7 linked regions of the Homo sapiens genome follow. The protein of the gene in region 1 purifies or fractionates together with the protein of each later gene. This does not show direct contact. Each region holds a gene or a part of one and is shown in the gene's direction. Other genes may lie near its edges. The genes, in order: TXNL1, FLNB, PAWR, USP16, PGM1, DEK and CSE1L.

Region 1 (3,500 bases):
TTGGATTATATTTATGAATTGCCTGTTCTAGTGGTGGCCCTGCCGCCAACTAGGATGTTTGGTGTTGGGCAGGTCATCTTATGATCTTCACTTCTTACTTACTGGTTAATTATATTAGGTTATGTCTGTTTTAAAGTTTTAGTTTTGTGGGTTCCTTTTTTTTTTTTTTTTTGAGACAGAGTTTCGCTGTTTTTGCCTAGGCTAGAGTTCAATGGCGCAATCTCGTCTCACTGTGACCTCTGCCTCCCAGGTTCAAACGATTCTCCTGCCTCAGCCTCCCAAGTAGCTGAGATTACAGGCATGCGTTACTAGGCCCAGCTAATTTTGTATTTTTAGTAGAGACGGGGGTTTCACCATGTTGGTTAGGCTGGTCTCGAACTCCTGACCTCAGGTGATCCACCAGCCTTGGCCTCCCCACAGTGCTGGGATTACAGGCGTGAGCCACTGCGCCCGGCTGGGTTTATTTCTTTATACATTGTAGAAAGCTAGCGGTTTACTGTATTCTTTTTCTCAAACAGCATAACTCAAAATCCTTCTAACATACACATTTTATATATTGGACTAAGCAGATAAGTTTTCAGTCAGAAGGTTTAGAGTAGAAAAGTAACTTTTTTTTTTTCTTCATTTTAAATGTCTGGACTAGGTGATCTCTTGAACCTTTTGCAGTGAAATAAGAAATCGTAGATTGTGCAAAGGGCAGCTAATCAAGGTGTGTGCAAGAGAAAAAGGTGTAATTCTGAAATTCAAGCATACTGGGTGCATAATATTGTAGAGCTGGGAAAAGTCCTTGGAGAGTCCTTTTATTTTATACAGAGAAATCAGGTGACTTGTTCATGATCTCAGCTAATGGAAATTTGTTTACTCTCAACTGCTCCTGTTAAGGAGACAGACATCTTATGTAAAATGATCAATTGGCTGGGCACAGTGGCTCACACTTGTAATCCCAGTACTTTGGGAGGCTGAGGTGGGAGAATCACTTGAGTCTAGGAGTTTGAGACCAGCCTGGGCAACATAGGCAGACCTCGTGTCTTCAAAACATCAAAAATTGGCAGGGTATGGTGGCACGTGCCTGTAGTCTCAGCTGCTTGGGAGGCTGAGGTGGAAGGATCACTTGAGCCTGAGGGAATGAGGCTGCAGTGAGCCATGATTATGCCACTGCACTCAACCTGGGTGACAGAGTGAAACCCTAAAAAAAAAAAGAAAAAAGAAAATGATCGATTTATTTGAATGATTGTTTTGTGAAAGTGTGCTGCTGTATATATTTGTGAGTTTGTATATATTTATGCTTCTCTGCTGATGCATTTTGATTTTTGACCAAAGTTCCAACCTCTGATGGCTAACTGAAATTAAAGAATCTAGATAAAGTTAAATCTTGAAACAGTTTTTTGCACAGTAACCATAATTTTAATAGTCTGTTCAGCTGCAAGATGTGTGTCTGTAACACCAGTTAGCTCGTAAATAATTGATGAATAGAGAGATGTCAATGTGATATGGAAGTTGTATTGGTTCATGTGTGATTATTCCTAGGTAGTGAAAAATAGAAATAAAACCTTCATCTGGAAGCAGAAAGCTCTCAGCCACACAGGCAAATTCCCTCTCTTGTTTATTTTAAGAAAGTTAATGAAGTTAAATAAGAGTGCCTACACCTAGCGTTTGTTCCCCAGAAGGGTTTATTTTCAGTGTTGCATTTTCTCCTGTCCCTTCCTTAATGGCAGCCCCACTGGCTCAGAGCTCCACTTCAGTCTGCTTTGTCACAACACCTGTAAGCATCATTTCCAGTTGATTTTGTTCTTTTCAAATATTCCCCAAGGTCGCTTCCAGCTCTGAGCCACATGCTGGGATGTCCATCTTTTTCCTGAATCCTAGTTACTGTCTTTTTTTTTTTTTTTCTTTTCCAAGTTGGAGTCTTGCTCTGTTGCCCAGGCTGGAGTGCACGATCTTGGTGACCTTGGCTTAACTACAACCTTCCGGGTTCAAGTGATTCTCCTTCCTCAGCCTCCCGAATAGCTGGGACTATAGGCATCCGCTATCACGCCTGGCTAATTTTTGTACTTTTAGTCGAGATGGGGTTTCACCTTGTTGGCCAGGCTGGTCTTGAACTCCCACCCTAAAGTGATCCACCTGCCTTGGCCTCCCAAAGTGCTGAGATTACAGGCATGAGCCATCATCGGGCCCAGTCTGGTTACTATCTTTCTTACTGATCTTGTTACAAAATTGCATGGGTTTCAAGTAGTTTGCCAACAAACTTATTTTTCCCATAAATTCTCTCTTTTTGGTGTGTGTTTTTGCAGGAGGGTGGTTTTCATGAATGGATATATTGTACTATAGAATGGATACCTCTGTAATTTGTGACACCTGTGTAAATGCAGTTAACACTAAATTCTTCTCAACTCATTTAATATTTTAAAATGAAAATACCTATTCATCACAAAAAAGCAAAGGATGCAGAATTATGGATACTAACTGTTCATTGTGCCTGTCTCTGTCTTTTTACCCCCTATGCATTTATATATATACATAGGTTTGAAATGTGATCCTAGAGAACATTTTATAATGAGACTTTCTTCCCCCCTAAACACTGCAAAGTATCAGGCTGGGGTGCAGTGGTGTGATCTTGGCTCACCGCAACCTCCGCTTCCCGGGTGCAAGTGATTCTCCTGCTTCAGCCTTCTGAGTAGCTGGGATTACAGGCATGCGCCACCATGCCTGGCTAATTTTTGTATTTTTAGTAGAGATGGGGTTTCACCATGTTGGCCTGGCTGATCTAGAACTCCTGGACTCAAGTGATCCGCCCATCTTGGCCTCCCAAAGTGCTGGGATTATAGGCGTGAGCCAGCGTGCCTGGCCCCTGTCATAACTTTTTAAACTAGTTTTCCATTAATTGCCATTTAAGTTGTTTTCTAACTTTACTATTACAAACATGTTACATTGAACTTCCTTATACTACATGTTATTGTGAAATAGAGTAAGTGTTGTTAAAATGGAATAGACTTTCAAAAGGGCAATTATTGGGTCTTGGCTTGTGTTCATCTAAAATGAATAGATATGACCCAATCAGTGGCCTTTGAAAAACAGTGTAGTGATATATATTCCCATTTATAAAGTTTAAGACTAATTTTAGTTGACTGTAAATATTATTTTCTTAGATTTTTGGTGTATGGCTTTCAGGATAACACAAGGTGAAATGCTGATTGAAATGTTAAGAATGTGGAGTTGATCACAACTTGAGTTTTAACATTTGTTTTTATTTTGTGCATTAGATTTGCTTTTTCTTGCATTTCTTATTTCTGCAAACTTTTATTGAGACATACATGGCACACAATTAGAAATGTATAGTTCAATTAATTTTCACAAACTGAACACACCTATTTAATCAGCTTCCAGACAAACAAAACATTGCTAGCCTCCAGAAGTCTTATTCTATCAGTAACTCACTAAGGTAACCATTGTCTTGATTTCTGATACCATTGATTGGTTTTGTCTGTATTTGAACTGTATGT
Region 2 (3,500 bases), on another chromosome or scaffold:
CAAACGGAAATACAGATATATAAGAGAGTGTCTTCCCAGCCTTCCCTCATGTGGACGAACCATTACATATTTGACCATTTCCCTATTGGAGGGCATTTTGGTTCTTCCTGCCCTCGCTGTCCCCAGTGTTGCTGCGCAAATCGACTTTTCCCCTAGTCACCTCACACTCACAAAGATGTATCTGTGAGATTTAGTTACCAGAGGAGGCAATGCTAGGGCCCCAGTGCAGGCATCTATGATTTTGACAGATCTTGCCAAATTGCCCTTCAGAGGGGCTGTTGCAGTTCACACGCCCTCTGGCCATGGAGAAGAGCACCTTCTTTTCCACAAAATTTGCCAGTAGAATATGGTATCAAATTTTTGGAGCTTTGCCAGTCTGATGGTTGGAAAGAAACAGAATCTCAGCGTTGCTTTATTTGTATTTCTCTTGTGAATGAGACCACACAACTTTCCCTATGTCTATTTGTATTTCTTTTTCTGTGAACTGAACATTTGGATCCACGGCCTGTTTTTCTATTTGGTTATTGGCCTTTGTCATATAGTTTCTAAGAGCAATGTAAACATTGGAGAGATTAGCCCTTTGTGGTAGGAGTTGCAAATGTTTCTCTGAGATTGGCATTTACTTTAGTTGTCTGTATGTAATATTGGTTTAAAGCAAAAATGTATTATCTGCTTCTATTTAAATATTCTAAAGCGGCAGATGGAGAGAGAGGAAAAAATGTCTTTCTCACATCTGCCATCCACTTCCACTGCTGGTGTGAGTTGTGTATCTTTTCAGATGTTTCTCTCTGTATCTACAAACATACATATAATTTTATTCTATTTTGTTTTTAAAGGAATAGCATAATGGTATTCATAGTTTATAGCAACTTGCTTTTTTTCTTTTTAATGCATCATATTATGGATAATTTCTCAAGTCAGTAAACATGGGTCTTCCTCACTCTTTTTAATGGCCCATGAGTAGATCAGCATTTATTTAACCGGTCCCCTGTTGTGAACACTTAGGTCTTTTCCTGATGTGCACCCGAACACTGCAGAAATGAAAGTGCTTACATAGGGCTAGGAGTCGGGGTGGGCAGAGAAGACCACTGTGGGGTTGATTCCTTACAGGTTGAATGGCATGGGCAAATGGCCTTCCAAAAGCCCTTTCCACTTACCTTCCCTCTGGCCATGGGTCCTTTCACCACCCAGTGCAAAAGTTTCTTCCTTATTTGTCAGGTTGGGCTGGTACCTTACCTTAGCCCCCTTCCTCATCTGGAGCAGCTTCCAGGATTGTTTTTCTTATGTTGTGATTGAAGGAATAATACTGCGTAGACCCTCTCTGATGTCCTAGGATGGCGGGGGATGGGAGGTGCATGTGCATCTCCTTCTGTCTCTTCATGCCTCTGCTTAGGAGGCGCCAGACCTGTAGAGAGGTGGACGTCAAGATGCCAGTTGTCCAGGGTCTTCGTTCACCCCTTAATGAGCACCAATTTTGTTTGTGTCCTTCGTAAACCCAGAGAGCCCACTCCAGTTCTACGTGAACTACCCCAACAGTGGAAGTGTTTCTGCATACGGTCCAGGCCTCGTGTATGGAGTGGCCAACAAAACTGCCACCTTCACCATCGTCACAGAGGATGCAGGAGAAGGTACTGTGTGGTTTACGTGTTTATACGCCTCCAGCTGTCCATTTGGAGGGTGAAGTGGACACGGTTCCAGGGTGGCTTTTAAAAGTGAGACAATCGAATGGTAGTATTTGTCTTGTCTTTTCTCTCGTGTAAATCTGTTTCTTCTTTAGAGCCGCTTCGTCTTCTACCCAGACAGACATTTTTGAAGTCCTTTGTGTTCTAACTGAAATCAGATTCATGCTATGAAATACTTTATGTGACTTGTCTGGAATTTAAGTGTGTTTTGGTTGGTGATGTTTTTGTTCTTGTTGCACATGTATCCACAAGACCACATGACTTACTGAGTGGCTCTTTTTGATAAAGCTGTGTGCCCATTCCCGTGGTATTCATGGATAATCCCAAATCTGTGGTTCTAATGGGATTTCCGTGATGGCAGCCAGTGCCTGATGGGCAGGGACAATCCACCTCTGCCCTCCACCACCCACCGTCTCCTATGTGTAATTGATGTACACGGCTCCTTCCTTTTCTCATCCCATGCATCCTGAGAGTAGAGAGAGCTCCAGGGTTACTTGCAGTGAAGAACTCAGATGTTTGGGGTTTCTTCTCAGTGGGTGTTTTTACTGCGTGGACTGCTTCATTCTGACAGATGTCCCTTTGCCCACAGCTCACGTGGAGTGCGTCAATCCATTGTCCCCAGCATCAGGGCTGCCCTGGATGAGTTGTTAAAAGGAAACTCTTAAAACAAGGCAACTCTCTCCCTAACACCCCTGCATCCCTGTTCCCACTTGTAGGTGGTCTGGACTTGGCTATTGAGGGCCCCTCAAAAGCAGAAATCAGCTGCATTGACAATAAAGATGGGACATGCACAGTGACCTACCTGCCGACTCTGCCAGGCGACTACAGCATTCTGGTCAAGTACAATGACAAGCACATCCCTGGCAGCCCCTTCACAGCCAAGATCACAGGTAGGGTTGTCTGGCTTCTGGGGTCTTCCTCGTGGGAAGTATGGCTGCCTCTGACTGCCACCCTCCTTATCAGACCCCTGGCAGCAGGCTAGACGTCTCTTTGAGTTTAGGTTTCACAGAGACTTGTTGAGGAGGAGCAGGGGATGGAATGCAATTTTGGATTAGCTAAATCCTTCTCTTGCTGATAATCCAGGAAAATGCGAGAGCTAGTATTTGGAGCACACTTTTATTGTGCCAGTGTGACTCTAGGGTGCAAAGAGAAAGCTCTCAGATGGAGTGTTCGAATCATACTTACTGCAATAGTGCATGAAGTGCATGAGCTTAGACATGCCCTTCAGCGTCACTACTAGGTAAATTTTCTGCTATCCCTTTTACAGATGGGAAAACTGAGGCTTGGCAAGGTAGTGGTGTAGCCAAGTTCACATATAGGTAAACAGATCCAGGTTATCAAATTCCAAAGCCCATGCTCCTCACCTTGCTGTGTTCAGGTTATGCTTTCAGTGGGTTATAAGGAAGATGCACAAGGCAGATCCTGTTTCCCCACCGTATTTAGACCTGTCTGTGAAGCAGCCAGTAGTACTGTGTGGAATGTGGTCATTGTTTACCTAGAAATGCCCACAGCCATGCCAGGCAGGTATGAGGTGCCTTCAACTAACAAAAATTCCTATATTTTATTTTATTTTTGAGACAGAGTCTCACTCTATCACCCAGGCTGGAGTTTTAGTGGCATGATCTCGGCTCACTGTGACCTCTACCTCCTGGGTTCAAGCGATTCTCCTGCCTCAGCCTCCTGAATAGCTGGGATTACAGCACCCACCACCACACCCAGCTTATTTTTGTATTTTTAATAGAGATGAAGTTTCACCATGTTGGACAGGCTGGTCTTGAACTCCTGACCTCAAGTGATTCGTCTGCCTCAGCCTCTCAA
Region 3 (2,793 bases), on another chromosome or scaffold:
AGTAAATTTTTCCAAGGTCACATAATCTTACATGAAATGGAACCTTTCATCTTAGACTTCATCAAACTCAATTTTTTCCCTTCTAGATTCACTTTGTGTTTATGCATGCATGCACGCGTGCACACAATTCTATCAGCAGCTGTAAACTACCCACATATTTTCTTAATCTCATTTTTTCAGTTTTTCTTCATCTTTAAAAGAGGTTACATTTCATTCCTGGTCAACTCTTAAAAAGAATTATGTAATGTTGGGCCTTCATATTAAAGAGAGAGACTGGTTATAAGATCCTTTACAGTCCATTCATTTTATTCTGATGTCTAACCAGATAGACACTAGCAAGCAAAACTTCCCTCTTAATCCTGGACCAAATGCATAATTTTACTGTCACTTTCAAAAATCTGTTATGACTGAATCAAAATCCTTTTAAAGAAAGGAAAAAGCTCCTTTTGTGTCAAATAGTTGAACAACATGAAAACAGTATGAGCCGGTTAAAGATAGATTGAATTTTTACTTTACACATATGAAAAACAGTAAGTTTTGACTGCTGTGTATGTTATTCATGTTAATATGTGCTCAGTTATTCACTATTGTTAATCCACATATAATCAGTTGCTATCCCTGGTTAGACACACTATGGAACTTGAAATGCACAATATTTACATTGTTAGAGGCTTCTATCCAAATATCTGCATTCCTTTAAAATGTGAACTATTTGCTGTGATTAACCAAAGGTAGATTATGTCATCAGTGGACATTTTAGCTTTATGGAAACAAATTATTAAGAAATGAATAGAAAGGTGTCTTTTTCTTTGTGTAGTGCAAAAGCCTAAAGCTATCAGTCAAAGGCCTAAGAAATCCACATTTGAAAAACGTAAATCATGATTGGTAAGAATACATTCATCTGATAGTATTGAGAAAAGTTGAAAAACTGTTAGCCTTCCATAACACATTAAACATTTTATGTATGGATGGCTGAAAGTATTGAGAAAAGCTGAAAAACTGTTAGCCTTCCATAACACATTAAACGTTTTGTGTATGGATGGCTTAGGACAATAAACAACATCATTAAAGTAAAATTATGTCAGTCTGTTCATATTAACTTATTTAAATCAATGAAAATTTTGATGAGATGACTAAATGGATGCTTTGGAAATGCAGGATTATAGGAGGCCTAAAAGTGCATCTTGTTTCTTGTAACCCTTTTAAAACCAATATGCCTGGCTAGGTGCAGTGGCTCATGCCTGTAATACCAACGGGGTAACACAGGGTTATGCCGTCTATACAAAAAAATAAATGAGCTGGGCAAGATGGCATGCACCTGTAGTCCCAGCTGCTTGGTAGGCTGAGGGGGAAGGATTGCTTGAGCCTGGGAGGTCGAGACTGCAGTGAGCCAAGATCACACCACTGCACTCCAGCCTGGGTGACAGAGCAAGACTCTACCTCAAAAATAAAAATAATCAATATAGTTTCAATGAAGCAAAGCATCTCAGGTAACAATTTGAGCATAACTTTAACCATAACTTATGATAGCATAATAACATTCATTAGTAATTCAGTAGCCGTATGTGCCAGGCTGTGTTAGGTGCTTTATATATTGTTTAATTTTTAAAAACTTGTGGAGTGTACAGATTGGTAAGGTGACATTGTATCACAAAGCTAGTCTTTGAGTCCAAAGTTTTGTGGTTTTATGTTATGATATACTTTTATCATGGAATTGTCTTATTAAATGTTTTGCCAGTGGTTCTTAAAGTGTGTTTCTGACACCAGTAGCATTGACTTCACTTAGAAACCTGTTAGAAATACAAATTATTTGGCCCCACCCAACACTTGAGTCACAAACTTTGCAGATGGGGCTCAATCTGTTTTAACAAGCGCTTCATGTAATTTTGATGCAGGCCTAAGTTTTTGAGCCACTGCAGTATGCATTTCTATTTTTAAGCAAAGATCTTGGTCTTTCTTTTTGGACATTGTAGAAATAACATGAACTTGTTTTTTGTTTGTTTTTGTTTTGTTTTGTTTTAAGCTCCTGATCTTTGTTGGTTATGTTGCAAAAGATTGTATCAGGAGAAGCCTCAGCATGGACATTGGCATCCTGACATAACCCCCATTAATTTAGTATTCTTTCTGAAACTCAAATGGATTCTCAAGTCCAAGAGACTATGGAATAAAATCATTGTTTGTCTGTGTTAAGTTTTATCTCTGTTATTGCCTGAAGACTTTTGGTAACAATAATGCGCTTTCATCAAACTTTTAAGACTTGATTGGAAAAAATAAATGTATGTTTCATCAGTTATACAATTTGTTTTGTATGTGTTTTGTATGGGTGGTCCCTGAGGAGCCTGAATCTTCAAAATATACTTTCTGTGAGCTCAGAAAATGAATAGCACTTTTGAGCTAATTGATCAGTGTGGAGAAATCACAGTGTTGCATCCTGATGAGTAAAGATAAAATTGACTCTTTATCGATTCAAGATCATTTTTTATATAAATAAATAAGCTACTCCTGTTTACTTTTTACAAACTTGAGAACAGTTTTAGATTTATAAAGTTATTGTGAAGATAGTACAGAGGGTTCTCATATGCCACCACACCAAGTTTCTCCTACTAACATCATACATTAATACTGTGCATTTATCACAGTTAATCGTCCAATATTTATGCACGATTATTAAAGTCCATACTTGATTCAGATTTCCTAAATTTTCCCCTAATGTCCTTTCTCTTTTCCAGTGTCCAGTCCAGGATACTACATTATATTTAGTACCTGTGTCTCCATAAAATTCTCTTGGCTGTG
Region 4 (3,161 bases), on another chromosome or scaffold:
TCAAAAAAAAAAAAAAGTCTGGGCCAGTTGCTGTGATGGGCATAATGGAAGAGGCCGCTAAGGACAATTTATAAGATTATGGTCACATTGAGGACTATGACAAGGTACATGATCATTTATTATACTTTTGTTTCTTGGCAGTAGTGGCCATCTGGGTTTGGGGCATGGCAGGTACATTATAGGATTCAGGGTGAGGTTTTGTGATGAATTGGATATGGAGGAGATTATTTGTAAGTGATACATGTGATTGAAGTTCCCAAACTTTAATGTGTATGTGGGAATCAGACCTACAAATTTTGATTCTGTAGGTCTAGTATGGGATCAAAAATTCTGCATGTTTAATGTAAACTCTCAGGTGATGCTGATGCTGGCTGTTCATGGACCACATTTTGAATAGCAATGGTCTAGACTGCATATGGGAATTATATTATGTCAGTTTCCATGCTGCTGATAAAGATATACTGGACAAGATATACTGGGCAAGACTGGGCAATTTACAAAAGAAAGAGGTTTACAGTTCCACATGGCTGGGGAGGCCTCACAGTCATGGCGGAAGGCAAGGAGGAGCACGTCACATCTTACATGGATGGCAGCGGGCAAAGCAAGAGCTTGTGGAGGGAAACTCCCCCTTAAGAAACCATCAGCTCTCATGAGGCTTATTCACTATCAAGAATAAGGATGGGAAAGACCTGCTCCCATGATTCAGTTGCGTCCCAACGGGTACCCTCCCATGACATGTGGGAATTGTGGGAGCTACAACTCAAGATGAGATTTGGGTAGGGACACAGCCAAACCATATCAGGAATGAAGCCAAAAGTCTTCATAGGTGAGGAGAATATGAGCATTGGAGATCCTGTTAGGTTAAAGAGTACAGAATAGGTGAGATGAGAGTTGAATAAATAGAAGACTTGTGGACTAAGACTAAAAATAAGATTTATGTCCCTTCAGCTCAGGAGTTTGAGACCAGCCCAGGCAACATGCTGAAACCCCATCTCTACAAAAAATTAATTTAGCAGGTCATGGTGGTGTGCACCTGTAGTCCCAGCTATTCCAGAGGCTGAGGCGGGAGGATCACTTGAGCCCAGGAGGCAGAGGTTGCATTGAGCTGAGATCATGCCACTGCACTCCAGCCTGGGTGACGGAGTGAGACCCTGTCTCAAAAAAAATTTTATGAAGTTGAACAATTCTGAGTGATGACAAGCCCAGACTCTAGTCCTGGGTGTGGTTGACTAAAATGGAATGGCATTTAAAGTCCTGTGAGAATCATAGATGGACGGAGAAGTACTAAGTTCTTCAGTGAATATGGAGGCACAGATTGGGAAGCTGAGTATAGGAGACAGTACTACTGAAGGGCCGTGATGCCTGTTACGGACTTTTACATGAGAACATAAATAGTTGTCTGAAAAGTGGCTCCTGGCCCAGAGAATGCCTGTTCCTGTTGCCAGCCCTATGGCATATAGAGTCCTGAAAGAATAAGCAGCGTGCACTCTCTCGTGGGGAAAGTGAACACTTGAGAGGTTGAATGTGCTTCTCACCAACTCCCTTGGGGACATTTAAAGATGTAAGGGGTAATTTTTGGCACAACCTAAAATACTGTTCTCTTCCTGTTCAGGGCTTACCTTTTTTTAAACAGGGTATTCAGAGTTGTTAATAGCTAGGGTTGTTAAGAATTATCCTCAGGCTCCTAAAGAAACTGGCAAGTTGAATTCAGTTATTTGGTATCTGAGCCAGGTAACTGCATCAAGTGGCCTGTGGCTTACAGCTTTTCTACCAGGGGAACAATGGTGAATTTATAATAAAAACAGAAGTGTCTCAGGCTGAGAAGAGGTATGGAGAAAAGAGTAGACTCATGAATGATTTCTGCACTCTCAAAGTAATGGTTAAAGACCCTTTGCATAGTGTAAACTTGTCTTGCCCATGACATCTGTGTAAATGGAACTAGAACTAACTTTTGGATTCTACTCATTTTTAAAGAATGTTGCAGAAGAAAATACAAGGGTACTCTATTCCTTATATGGAGTTGTTGAACACAGTGGTACTATGAGGTCGGGGCATTACACTGCCTATGCCAAGGCAAGAACCGCAAATAGTCATCTCTCTAATCTTGTTCTTCACGGTGATATTCCACAAGGTAAGATGTCTTGGAAAATTCAGGCACTCAGCAGATTACGGCAAAACCAAAAAGTAATCAACTTGAATCTTTCCATTTATGTTTGATTTTTCATTTTCTCATGACAGATTTTGAAATGGAATCAAAAGGGCAGTGGTTTCACATCAGCGACACACATGTGCAAGCTGTGCCTACAACTAAAGTACTAAACTCACAAGCGTACCTCCTATTTTATGAGAGAATACTGTAATAATATCAAAAGCACTTTTTCTGGAAACACATTTATGGCTTTTATAATGGCTGAAATAACGATAAAAAAAGACTAATTAAAATCATGTTCACTTAACATTAAATACATGCCAGAAGAAATCATGTTTATTTAAATATTGAAGGGAAAAATACCTAAAAATGTACAAAGGTTTTATATTGTCATAGTGGTTTTTATTCCTGCTTTGTTTCTGGAAAGGAAATCCTGAATTACTTAAGTACTTTGTGTTTAATATATCTGGGTGATGGATCACAACACATCAATAAACTGACTTACCCTAAAATCTTGTTTTATTACTGGGAAGATTTTAACTTCTATTGACTTATCCTACTAGGTAACACTTTAAAAAATATTTCATCAGACTGGCTAATGAAGCTTCATTACAAGTGTGTTAATTTTTTTTTTTTTTTTTTTTTTTTTTTTTTGAGACGGAGTCTTGCTCTGTCGCCCAGGCTGGAGTGCAGTGGTGCGATCTCAGCTTACTGCAAGCTCTGCCTCCTAGGTTCACGCCATTCTCCTGTCTCAGCCTCCCGAGCAGCTGGGACTACAGGCGCCCGCCACCACGCCCAGCTAATTATTTGTATTTTTAGTAGAGACAGGGTTTCACCGTGTTAGCCAGGATGGTCTCGATCTCCTGACCTCGTGATCCACCTGCCTTGGCCTCCCAAAGTGCTGGGATTACAGGCTTGAGCCACCGCGCTGGGCCATACAAGTGTGTTAATTTTATAAGCATCTATATTGACAGCAGAATATAAATGGGAGCAATGTTTCTTTATAAGCCTT
Region 5 (3,500 bases), on another chromosome or scaffold:
CTTTCCATCCAGGAGCATACAATCTTTTGGGGGAGATAAGACAGAAGAAACACATAGACATACAAAGAACAGAATTAGAAAACATGCTGAGCTCAGCGAGAGAGAGAACATTTTGGATTGGGAAAGAAGAGGTGCCTGCACCTAAAACCAATTATGTCTTGAAGAGCGGATAGTGTGCGATAGAAGATGGGGCTACCCTTCAGGAAGGGGACCTGCCGAGAGAAGTGAGAAAGAGAGAATAGGCAGGACTCTTTTTTAGAGCCGGACACTTAGTCACTAAACAATCTTTGTTACATAAAATACTTAAATCAGCTTGCTTGGGACTTTTTCTTTCTTGGCTTCACTAATGCTCTTGGTGAAACATCTTTTTCCTTTTTCTTTTTTAATCAAATCTAATGCTCATGAAATTTTGTAGAAGAAAAAGAAAAACGTTCTCCCTTTCTGAGATAGAGGGTTTGTTTTGTTTTTGTAAACAAGATAACAGGGAAGAGTGCTCTACTGTTTTGGAAAGAGTGACTCATTCAATAAATATTTATTGAGCACCTATTAGGTTCTCGGTACTACGGATACAACAGTGAATTGAACAAAGTTTCTGCTCTACAGAGCTGTGGGGTTCTCGTTGAGCCTGACAGATGATAAACGTGTCAAATGAAGATAAGTTCTCTGAAGAAAAATAAAACCCAGTAAAGGGGACAGCATTAGAGGATGGGCTGCTCTTTTTAGTGCAGCAATTGGGATGTCTGATAAACCTCATGAGAGCAGAGACCTGAATGAAGTGAAGGAGTGAGCCATGCAGATATCCGTGAAAAGACTTCCAGACAGAGGAAGAGTTAGATGGAAAGGATAAACACATATAATCATTTAATGTTATAAAATTATGCCTCAGGTAAATAAATGTAGCATACATTTTATCGTACAAAGGGTCCCAATATACTATGACATTTTGCATATAGATTATAAGTATTATTCTATTATAAATTTATCTTGGGATAATAAGATGTGTAATCAACATTGATCAAATATTTAACAATAATTTTTTTCTCTCTTGGACTCTAGGGTAGGGAAAACTTTTCATCTACCCTCCTAGGTTATATACTGGGGGCTTGCAAATTAAATGTAAAAGACAAATGAGCAACAAAAAGACATTTGTGGGAGTTTACAGAAAAATGTGACAGGAGGCAGTTAGACTTGGGGGCCTATACATCATCTCAGTAGGGGAAGGCGGAAGAGGAGAAGAGCATTTGCTGGAAACCACGACTTTAGGAGAGATAAATCAGCCCTTAAGAGACTAGATAGGAGATGTGGTAGTTTTATGCCAGTGTCTATTTAGTTATGGTAATGAGTCGATCTTCCCTGGTTGTGAAACTCCAGAGTTCCTTTGGGGCACACTGCTTTTAAGACAGATGAAGGAGTTTAGTAAAAAGCCTATTTTTAAATGACTGGCTCAAAATAATTTTTATGTCACAGTGGTGTAGTCTGGACCCCTTTAGACTTTAGAAGAGCTTTCAGCAGATTGATTTGAGTGAGCTACACTTCTAAGAAAGTGAAGCAGGAAAGTTTGAACTGATCCCTTTATTCTCCTCCAAGTTCCCTTGAGGCCCACACAGACATAGCCAGTTATTCTGCTGACTTTGAAGCTGTGCTCACAGTTGGGATCCACCTTTGAAAAATGGCTCCTGAGTGTGTTAAGTAAGTAATGGCTAGCCGAGGGCTTCAGTTGGGAGGACTGCGGAGAAGACTTTTCTCCCCTGGGGTCCTCAAAGGGGAAAGAAATCACAAGGGGGCAGCATAGGGAGTTGTTTGGAAAGGGTGAGAAGGCTGTGCTTAGTGTTGGGATACGCGGATGGATGTAAGCTGGGTTTTGTTTTGTTTAGTTTTTTAAACTTCAGCTGTTGGAAGTCCTCCTTCCCATAGCTTCTCCAAATCACCACTGAGCTGATTCCCCAAGGCATAAAGACAGCCCTGAATTAACACAGTGGGGAATGCTAATTAAGTCATGCCAATAAAGATTTAATCATGAATCAGAAACACTTGGAAAATTATGTTTTCATATTGGAAAGATGTTCTTTTTTTCTCTATGAGTACCCCAAAGTGTTTTTGAAGGATGAAATGCGATAGGTGGTAGGACAGAAATATTTGGTTGACTTGTCCAGTATGCTAATGGTGTTGGAACAGGGACTCCAGTCTTCTGATATTTCATCTGGTTGGTCTTTTCCATAAATAAATATATCCCAGAGCAAGTAGTTCTGGGGATTGTTATAATATGCTGGTTAATAGCATGGAGAAACTGGCTTGGGCAATGTTAAGTAGGAGTTTCAGAGCTTTTAATATATGAGTACTGAGAGTTTGTAAAAGGACCCCAAACAGAAGAATTTTGGGAAATACCAATCTATACCATGCTGGGTTGATAGGACCATCTATATTATACAAGAATCTTCTCAGATTTAAGTTTCTTCTTTTTAAACTGCCATTAAGGGCATGCAGGGAAGGTGAAATTTTGTTTTAATATCCATGTATACCATATGGCTTATTTTGGCAACTAATATATGAATTTGTTCTTGGCTGCTTTGAGTGTGATTGATTCAGCCCAATAAGTATTTTCTAACCAGGTCACCACATGTAGAGTTATGAGGTAAGTGACAAAAGTCCTTCTGACCAAATATTAGTCCTGTATGTTGTACTCCAATGTGCTCACAAGTGAATTGAAATGTTGCTCAAGAGTGAATTGAAATGGCTACTACATTGTGTGAGTCCGGAGGGCTTAATCTGCATGGTGTCATAGCCATTTGGGGGCTAAACCGACAAGTGTGAGGATTGTAAACTGGCAGGGAGCTCAAAATGAGCTGATTGGTGAAACTTCATGGTGATCTCGTAGGTTGCAGCAGAGAACAATACAGGCCCAGTCCTCACATGCTTGGGACTTAAGGTGAAGGTTTGTGTTGGAGGCTAGGTGGGTTACGGACAAGCAGAGAACTGCCACAAGGTGCTGTCAGCACTGGGATGGAGGTGAGCAAAGGAGGCTAGGAAAGCATAAAGGAGGCGTGCCTGGTTCCAGCAGAGGGAGTAGGGAAGTGACAACTAAAACCAGACCTGAAGGTGAAGAGCAGAGAGGAATGTTCCAGGCAGAACCATAGGTGAGAGAATTTGGCATGTTTAAGAGAAAGCTCCCCTCACTGCCCCCCAACTCCGTATTTTTGTTTCATACTCTGCAAGGAGCAACTGCACTAAAAATGTACCTCATGTTTTCTATTTTACAAGTTACTGCCACATGCATGGCCTTATTTCCTGTCTACAACAAACCTTTCAGGTGTCCCAGGTCACAAAGTCAGGAAAAGAGCCTGGGAACTGCCCCCACTCTTCCTAGAATGTAAGGGGTGTTGGGCCATGTTCCAAATACCAGGTTCCCACTGAGAGTGGCTGAGGATAATGCTAATCTGGGCAGTTTTAAGCAGGAAATGAGTATGTGGAGTAGGGAAGTGCGGAGATCTTGCTATGTAAGT
Region 6 (3,500 bases), on another chromosome or scaffold:
TTTTCATCTGTTAATGTATCTACTCCCCATAAAACCATAGGAACTATTGTTTCTTTTGTTTTGTAAATGAGACAAGGGCCCAGAGATGTACTGGGGCTGGAATTTGAAACCAGGCAGCTTGCTGCTAGAGCCTGTACTCTTTGAACTATTATGTCGTATATTTTTCTTTAGTGCTTGTGCAGTATATTTGCAGTCTTTTAGAAATTTTAATAGATGACAGGCCTGGTTGTCCGTTTAGAAAAACTGTAGAACATTATCCTTTACAGCAGATATGAAATGTAGAAAGATGTGGTTTTGTTATACAGAAGTAAGATTTTATGGAGATGGCTTGTTATTTATTATTATAAATGTTTATGCTTTGACAAACTGTCACTACTCACAATTTGCAGGTTTTAAAATGATGTCATGTTGTGTATCACATCTAAAATTTTAATGGCAAGCCTTAAAAGGCTTTGGAAGTATTTTAGTTATCTAATTCTGATTTTCTAATTTGAATGGAGATTGAGTAATTATTGATGATATTGTTTCTTTTGCTCAACCTTCAACCCTTTCAGTAATAACTTACTTTCTTGTACCTGCAAGTCCAGATTTTATTACCGTTTAACTAAAAAATGATATATAATCATGATTATTGTATTCTGTGTATTAAGTGTGCTAAAGAACTTAAGAATTTTTAGGATTCCCTTTCAGAGCCTAATATATAGTTCACATGAACTGGGTGGACACTTAATGAACCTTAAAACTTAGTTTAAGTTCGTCATAAAAAAACGACAAATCATTGATACTTGTCCCATAGCCCCACACCATCTAGAACATCTCTTAGGATTAGGAAGTAAGTTAAAATGGCCTGTAAATCGCAAAAGTCCATGGGAAATTCATGTACTTACTTTTAGAAGCATGTCAGCCCCTTGACACCTTAAAAATGTATTTTTTAGTAGCAGTTAAACTACATGCTTCCCAGCCAGTGGTATATTGTTGAGGTAGTGCAGGGTGATGATAGGCTTGTATAAATAGGTACAGTGATGGTATATTAGCAAAAAGAAAGACAAACACTAAAATCCAGCCAGGTGAGGTGGTGTGTGCCTGTAGTCCCAACTACTCAGGAGCCTGAGGTGGGAGGATTGTTTGAGTCTAGCATGGGTAACATAGCGAGACCATCTCTTTTTTTTAAAAAAAAAAAAAAAAAAAAAAAGACACTAAAATCCAATGAATAGCTTGAGGCCACTTTTGGAACAGATTGATGTGTATACTTTAATCTAAAGGATAGGTTCAACACAGTGCTTATGTCTTTAAAAACAGGTTGACTTGGCCGGGCACAGTGGCTCACGGCTGTAATCCCAGCACTTTGAGAGACCAAAGTGAGTGGATCACCTGAGGTCGGGAGTTCCTGACCAGCCTGGCCAACATGGAGAAACCCCGTCTCTACTAAAAATACAAAAGTAGCCGGGTGTGGTGGCGCATGCCTGTAATCCCAGCTACTCAAGAGGCTGAGGCAGGAGAATCACTTGAACCCGGGAGGCAGAGGTTGCGGTGAGCCGAGATCATGCCATTGCACTCCTGCTCCTGCCTGGGCAACAAGAGCGAGACTCCATCTCAAAAAAAAAAACCAGGTTGCTTTAGGATAACTCTCAGGAATCAAGAGTGTTAAACATTTGGAGAAACGTTCTGTCAAGTGATCGCAGTAGTTTTAGTGTGTAAATGGGAGAATTTAAAATATCTTGGAATGTTTAATAGGAAGCTTTTCCTTTGGGAACATTAATTAAACTAAGAATTAATGCTTTCTAATTTCACAGGCTCCACATGAGACAAAGTATGAACTCTGATTTTGTCTTTTTTTTTTTTTTTTTGAGACAGTCTCTCTCCTGGAGTGCAGTGTCATGATCTCCACTCACTGCAACCTCCATCTCCAGGGTTCAAGCAATTCTCTTGCCTCAGCCTCCTGAGTAGCTGAGACTACAGGTGCCCACCACCACACCCAGCTAATTTTTGTATTTTTAGGAGAGACAGTGTTTCACCATGTTGACCAGGATGGTCTCAGTCTCTTGATCTCATGATCCGCCCGCCTTGACCTCCCAAAGTGCTGGAATTACAGGCATGAGCCACCATGCCTGGCCTGTCATTTTAATCTATCCATATTTATGTATTTTGTTTGTGTCTAATCACCTATGGGTTAGTGTTTAAGAACACAAGTTCTGGAGTCACATCTATATTTGAATCTTGCATGTTTATTAATGTGACTGTGGACAAGGTAACCACACTGAGCCTTAGTTTCCTCATATAGTCATAAGTATTTATTGAGCAACTACTGTATACCAGAGACTATTTTAGGAGTTAGGGAAACATCAGTGAACACAAGATTCTAGGCCAGGTGTGGTGGCTCATGCCTGTAATCCCAGCACTTTGGGAGGCCAAGGCAGGCAGATCATCTGAGGTCAGGAGTTCAAGACCAGCCTGGCCAACATGGCAAAACCTCATCTCTACTAAAAATACAAAAATTAGCCGGGTGTGGTGGCGAGCACCTGTAATCCCAGCTACTAGGGAGGCAGAGACAGGAGAATTCGCTTGAACCCGGGAGGGCAGAGGTTGCAGTGAACCAAGATCGGGCCACTGCACTCCAGCCAGGGTGACGCAGCAAGACTCTGTCTCAAAAAAAAAAAAAAAAAAAAAAAAGATTCCAGTTGAAAGAGAGAGAACATAAATAAGAGAAGATAATATTATCTATATTTAGGGGTCCCCCCCAAGATTAAGTAGAGTAATGCATATGTAGTTTATCCATAGTGTTGAATAAATATGGGCAACTCTTGTGTGTGTGTGATTGTGATTTGTCATGCTTAGACTTGTGTTGGGATAAAATTGTTGTATATTAGTCATCTCTCAAAAAGAATTTTTAATTGCTGATACCAAATATATTGGTTTTCTCTAATATTATTAAGGGGCATAGGGGAAGTAGAGGGATGGGATGGGATAGCATTGAATCTCATCAATATGTGTACTTTTACTTTCTTTTGTAACAGCCACCAAAAAAGACAGCCAAAAGAGAAAAACCTAAACAGAAAGCTACTTCTAAAAGTAAAAAATCTGTGAAAAGTGCCAATGTTAAGAAAGCAGATAGCAGCACCACCAAGAAGAATCAAAACAGTTCCAAAAAAGGTATGTTAGAAATAACATTAATCAGCAACTTTAAAGATATAGCATATATTAATATGTTGTACATAGTATTTAAGTGTGTGGGAGAAACAGGTAAACTGCAGAGAACATTGCGGGGAGAAGTAATACAGGTTGAATATCCCTTATCTGAAATGCTTGGGACAGGAAGTGATTCAGATTTTGCAATATATATATATAGAGAGAGAGACAGAGAGAGAGATATCTTGGGGATGGGACCCAGTCTAAACATGAAATTCATTCATGTTTCATATTCATCTTAAATAGCCTGAAGGTAGTTTAATATTTTAACTAAATAAATTATTTATTGCAGTGGTGCCGTTACAGCTCACTGT
Region 7 (3,500 bases), on another chromosome or scaffold:
TGTTGCCTGAGTGGTCTTTTTCTTTCATTAAGAGTTATTTGGCTACAGTCTGGAAACCTATTTACTCTTGCATTGTTAAAAGATAAAATTTCAATACTGTAATAATATTTGATTCTATTTGATGTTACATGTTTGGTGTGTGTAGTATACAGAATTACTCTTATCATGGGCTTGGCTTAAGCCATAGTGTACATATAAGGCTGTTTCATTACATTATTGAAAGTAGGTCTTTAAAGTAGTGACATTATGGATATTTCATGAAATAAAATTATTTTTCATTGAAGATACTAAGAAAACTTAAAACTCTATAATGGTAGCCCCTTTTTAAAAATCATCTGGCTAGGCATGGTGGTTCACACCTGTAATCCCAGCACTTTGGGCGGCCAAGGTGGGGAGGATCCCTTGAGCCCAGGAGTTCAAGACCAGCCTTGGCAATGTAAGGAGACCCCCATCACTACAAAAAATAAAAATAAAATTAGCCAGATGTGTTGGCTCATGCTAATGGTCACAGCTACTCAGAAGGCTTAGTTGTGAGGATCCCTTGACCTTGAGCCCAGGAGGGCAAGGCTGCAATGAGCTGTGACCATGCCACTGCACTCCAGCCTGGGAGACAGAGGGAGACCTCGTCTCAGAAAAAGAAAAAATTATCCACAGCTCGAGAAAGAGAGAAAATGGTAAAAGATTGTAATTTGTAAATATTTCTGATATGGGTTTTATATTGTGTACTTTTAAACATATAACACTTATTCTGTGCTACTCATTTGTTAATATATTTATGACCTTCTTTCCGAAGAGACAAAAGACAAAATATTAAAAATATTTCAATACCAAATAAACTAAAAATTAGAATTGGTGATTCAAATCAGGTTTTAAGAGTGGGGTACAGAAAGAAATTGTTACTATCGTTGTACAACAGATTTTGTCTCAGAGTTTGACTATATTAATAGGAACTTTAAAAGATGTAGCTCTCATAAAATAATTATTTCAGTCCAATGGGAGGGAAAAACACTCCTTCAGAAAACAAAACTTTTCTTCACACAAAAGTCACAAGGAAATTTTTTGGATAGAATTCTTACAAGGACCTTTTTGCCCAGTTAACCATGTGCTACCTTGTGCTACTATTTATGCCTTAAGTAATCAGTGTGAGGGAGTTTTGGTTTTGGCTTTGGTTTTTGTTCTTACTCTGATGTCTTCCCTTGTCTCACTCTGTCACCAAGGCTGGAGTGCAGTGGCATGATCATGACTTACTGCAGCTTCGACCTCCCTGGGCTCAAGTGATCCTCCCACCTCAGCCTCCCAAGTAGCAGGGACTATGGGTATGCACCACCATGCCCAGCTGATTTTTTTTATTTTGGGGGCTTGCTGTGTTGCCCAGGCTAGACTCAAAACTCCTGGGCTTGGCCCGTCGCAGTGGCCCACGCCTATAATCCCAGCACTTTGGGAGGCCGAGGCCATCCTGGCTAACACGGTGAAACCCCGTCTCTACTAAAAAAAAAAAATACAAAAATTAGCCGGGCGTGATGGCGGGTGCCTGTAGTCCCAGCTACTTGGGAGGCTGAGGCAGGAGAATGACGTGAACCCAGGAGGCGGAGCTTGCAGTGAGCTGAGATCGCGCCACTGCACTCCAGCCTGGGCAACAGAGGGAGACTGCGTCTCAAAAAAAAAAAAAAAAAACCACTCCTGGCCTCAGGCCATCCTCCAGCCTCAGCCTCCCAGAGGGTTGGGATTACCGGCGTGAGCCACTACACTCAGCCAGAATATACTGTTTGAATCTAATACGGAAATATTTTGTAATTCAGCAACTTATTTGAAAGACTTGGTGAAAAGATTGGTGGTGGCATAGCTGTAGTTTACAATAACTGATTTGATTTGGATTTAATTGATAAAGAGTCTAGTTCAGGAATTTCAGTTACTCCTCTTACTTATGTTAGCATTAGAGTTGTATGTTGGAGTTTTTGTTTTCTTTTATGTGAGGATGAAGAGGAAGCCGGCTTATTGGAGCTCTTAAAATCCCAGATTTGTGATAATGCCGCACTCTATGCACAAAAGTACGATGAAGAATTCCAGCGATACCTGCCTCGTTTTGTTACAGCCATCTGGAATTTACTAGTTACAACGGGTCAAGAGGTTAAATATGATTTGGTAAGATGATGGTGGAGACAAATAATTAAAAGACATTCTCTCCCTATCTCCTCCAAGAAATAAGCTGTTGAGTTTTGCTTTTAAAAATATTCTTGTTTTTGTGTTTTGTTCCAGTTGGTAAGTAATGCAATTCAATTTCTGGCTTCAGTTTGTGAGAGACCTCATTATAAGAATCTATTTGAGGACCAGAACACGCTGACAAGTATCTGTGAAAAGGTTATTGTGCCTAACATGGAATTTAGAGGTAATTATGGCAAAAGTATATTAGTATAAATCTACTAAGTCTGTGTTTGTTTTTTGTAACATATTCAGTCTAATTCATTTATTACTGGATAAAACTTGTATGTCATTTATTTCTTATTTTCTAAACCAAGACAGAAAATGTAGTATCTGTAATGAGTTTTGTTGTGCCCTGTGAGGGTTTTCTCATGGAAATATTAAATAAGACTTCAAAAATTCCTTTACACTAAGAAGATAAACTATCTGGAATTTCTATTTAGAGAAAGAATTTGATTTTGTTTCATTTATTATTTCAATGAATTTTTAGCTGGCTTTATTTATTTATATATTTATTTGAGACAGGGGTCTCGCTCTGTCACCCAGGCTGGAGTGCAGTGATGCAATCTTGGCTCACTGCAACCTTAGCCTCCCAGGCTCAAGTGATCCTCCTACCTCAGTCTTCTGAGTAGCTGGGACCACAGGCACACATCACCATGCCTGGCTAATTTCTTGTATTTTTGGTAGAGACAGGGTTTCACCATGTTGTTCAGGGTAGTCTCAAACTCTTGAGCTCAAGCAGTCCACCCGCTTTAGCCTCCCAAAGTGCTGGGATTGCATTTCTGAGCCACCTCGCCCAGAAATAGCTGTTTTTAAACAATCGACTTGAGAATAGAAATGATAACTTTATAAATACAAGGTTGAAGCCCACTTAGTTTGTGCTTAAGGTTAAACTATAGTGCTAAGAGCCTATATTTATAAAATGTATGTCCTTGTTCTAACAGTTGTGAAGAACAAGTAATGAAGGTGGGAGGGATTGTGTTTTTTGTTTTGGGGACAGGGTCTCACTGTGTCACCCAGGCTGGAGTGCAGTAGCACAGTTATGGCTTACTGCAACCTCAACTTCCCAGGCTCAAGTCATTGTCCCACCCTGGCCTCCTGAGTAGCTGGGACTACAGACGTGCACCACCATGCTCAGCTAGTTTTTTATTTTTTATAAAGATGGGGGTCTTCCTATGTTGCACAGGCTGGTCTCAAACTCCTAGCTTCAAACAATCCTTCTGCCTCAGCCTCTCAAAGTGCTGGGATTACAGGCATGAGCCACCATGCCAGGCCAAGATTTTGTTTTATATCAAAATAGT

Evidence for each region.
Region 2: the proteins of TXNL1 (region 1) and FLNB fractionate together in Homo sapiens (co-fractionation; one large-scale study listed by BioGRID). This does not show direct contact.
Region 3: the proteins of TXNL1 (region 1) and PAWR fractionate together in Homo sapiens (co-fractionation; one large-scale study listed by BioGRID). This does not show direct contact.
Region 4: the proteins of TXNL1 (region 1) and USP16 fractionate together in Homo sapiens (co-fractionation; one large-scale study listed by BioGRID). This does not show direct contact.
Region 5: the proteins of TXNL1 (region 1) and PGM1 fractionate together in Homo sapiens (co-fractionation; one large-scale study listed by BioGRID). This does not show direct contact.
Region 6: the proteins of TXNL1 (region 1) and DEK fractionate together in Homo sapiens (co-fractionation; one large-scale study listed by BioGRID). This does not show direct contact.
Region 7: the proteins of TXNL1 (region 1) and CSE1L fractionate together in Homo sapiens (co-fractionation; one large-scale study listed by BioGRID). This does not show direct contact.

What each region holds. Positions count from the first base shown.
Region 1 is NC_000018.10:56,628,593-56,632,092, reverse strand, and holds part of TXNL1 (thioredoxin-like protein 1), read left to right. Parts: intron 1-3,500. UniProt on the Homo sapiens protein: Active thioredoxin with a redox potential of about -250 mV.
Region 2 is NC_000003.12:58,144,422-58,147,921, forward strand, and holds part of FLNB (filamin-B), read left to right. Parts: intron 1-1,499; coding exon 1,500-1,628; intron 1,629-2,398; coding exon 2,399-2,572; intron 2,573-3,500. UniProt on the Homo sapiens protein: Connects cell membrane constituents to the actin cytoskeleton. May promote orthogonal branching of actin filaments and links actin filaments to membrane glycoproteins. Anchors various transmembrane proteins to the actin cytoskeleton.
Region 3 is NC_000012.12:79,584,379-79,587,171, reverse strand, and holds the end of PAWR (PRKC apoptosis WT1 regulator protein), read left to right. Parts: 3' UTR 1-2,293; downstream 2,294-2,793. UniProt on the Homo sapiens protein: Pro-apoptotic protein capable of selectively inducing apoptosis in cancer cells, sensitizing the cells to diverse apoptotic stimuli and causing regression of tumors in animal models.
Region 4 is NC_000021.9:29,051,828-29,054,988, forward strand, and holds the end of USP16 (ubiquitin carboxyl-terminal hydrolase 16), read left to right. Parts: intron 1-1,974; coding exon 1,975-2,131; intron 2,132-2,238; coding exon 2,239-2,360; 3' UTR 2,361-2,661; downstream 2,662-3,161. UniProt on the Homo sapiens protein: Specifically deubiquitinates 'Lys-120' of histone H2A (H2AK119Ub), a specific tag for epigenetic transcriptional repression, thereby acting as a coactivator.
Region 5 is NC_000001.11:63,599,911-63,603,410, forward strand, and holds part of PGM1 (phosphoglucomutase-1), read left to right. Parts: intron 1-3,500. UniProt on the Homo sapiens protein: Catalyzes the reversible isomerization of alpha-D-glucose 1-phosphate to alpha-D-glucose 6-phosphate. The mechanism proceeds via the intermediate compound alpha-D-glucose 1,6-bisphosphate.
Region 6 is NC_000006.12:18,237,031-18,240,530, reverse strand, and holds part of DEK (protein DEK), read left to right. Parts: intron 1-3,014; coding exon 3,015-3,150; intron 3,151-3,500. UniProt on the Homo sapiens protein: Involved in chromatin organization.
Region 7 is NC_000020.11:49,070,312-49,073,811, forward strand, and holds part of CSE1L (exportin-2), read left to right. Parts: intron 1-1,974; coding exon 1,975-2,142; intron 2,143-2,256; coding exon 2,257-2,386; intron 2,387-3,500. UniProt on the Homo sapiens protein: Export receptor for importin-alpha. Mediates importin-alpha re-export from the nucleus to the cytoplasm after import substrates (cargos) have been released into the nucleoplasm.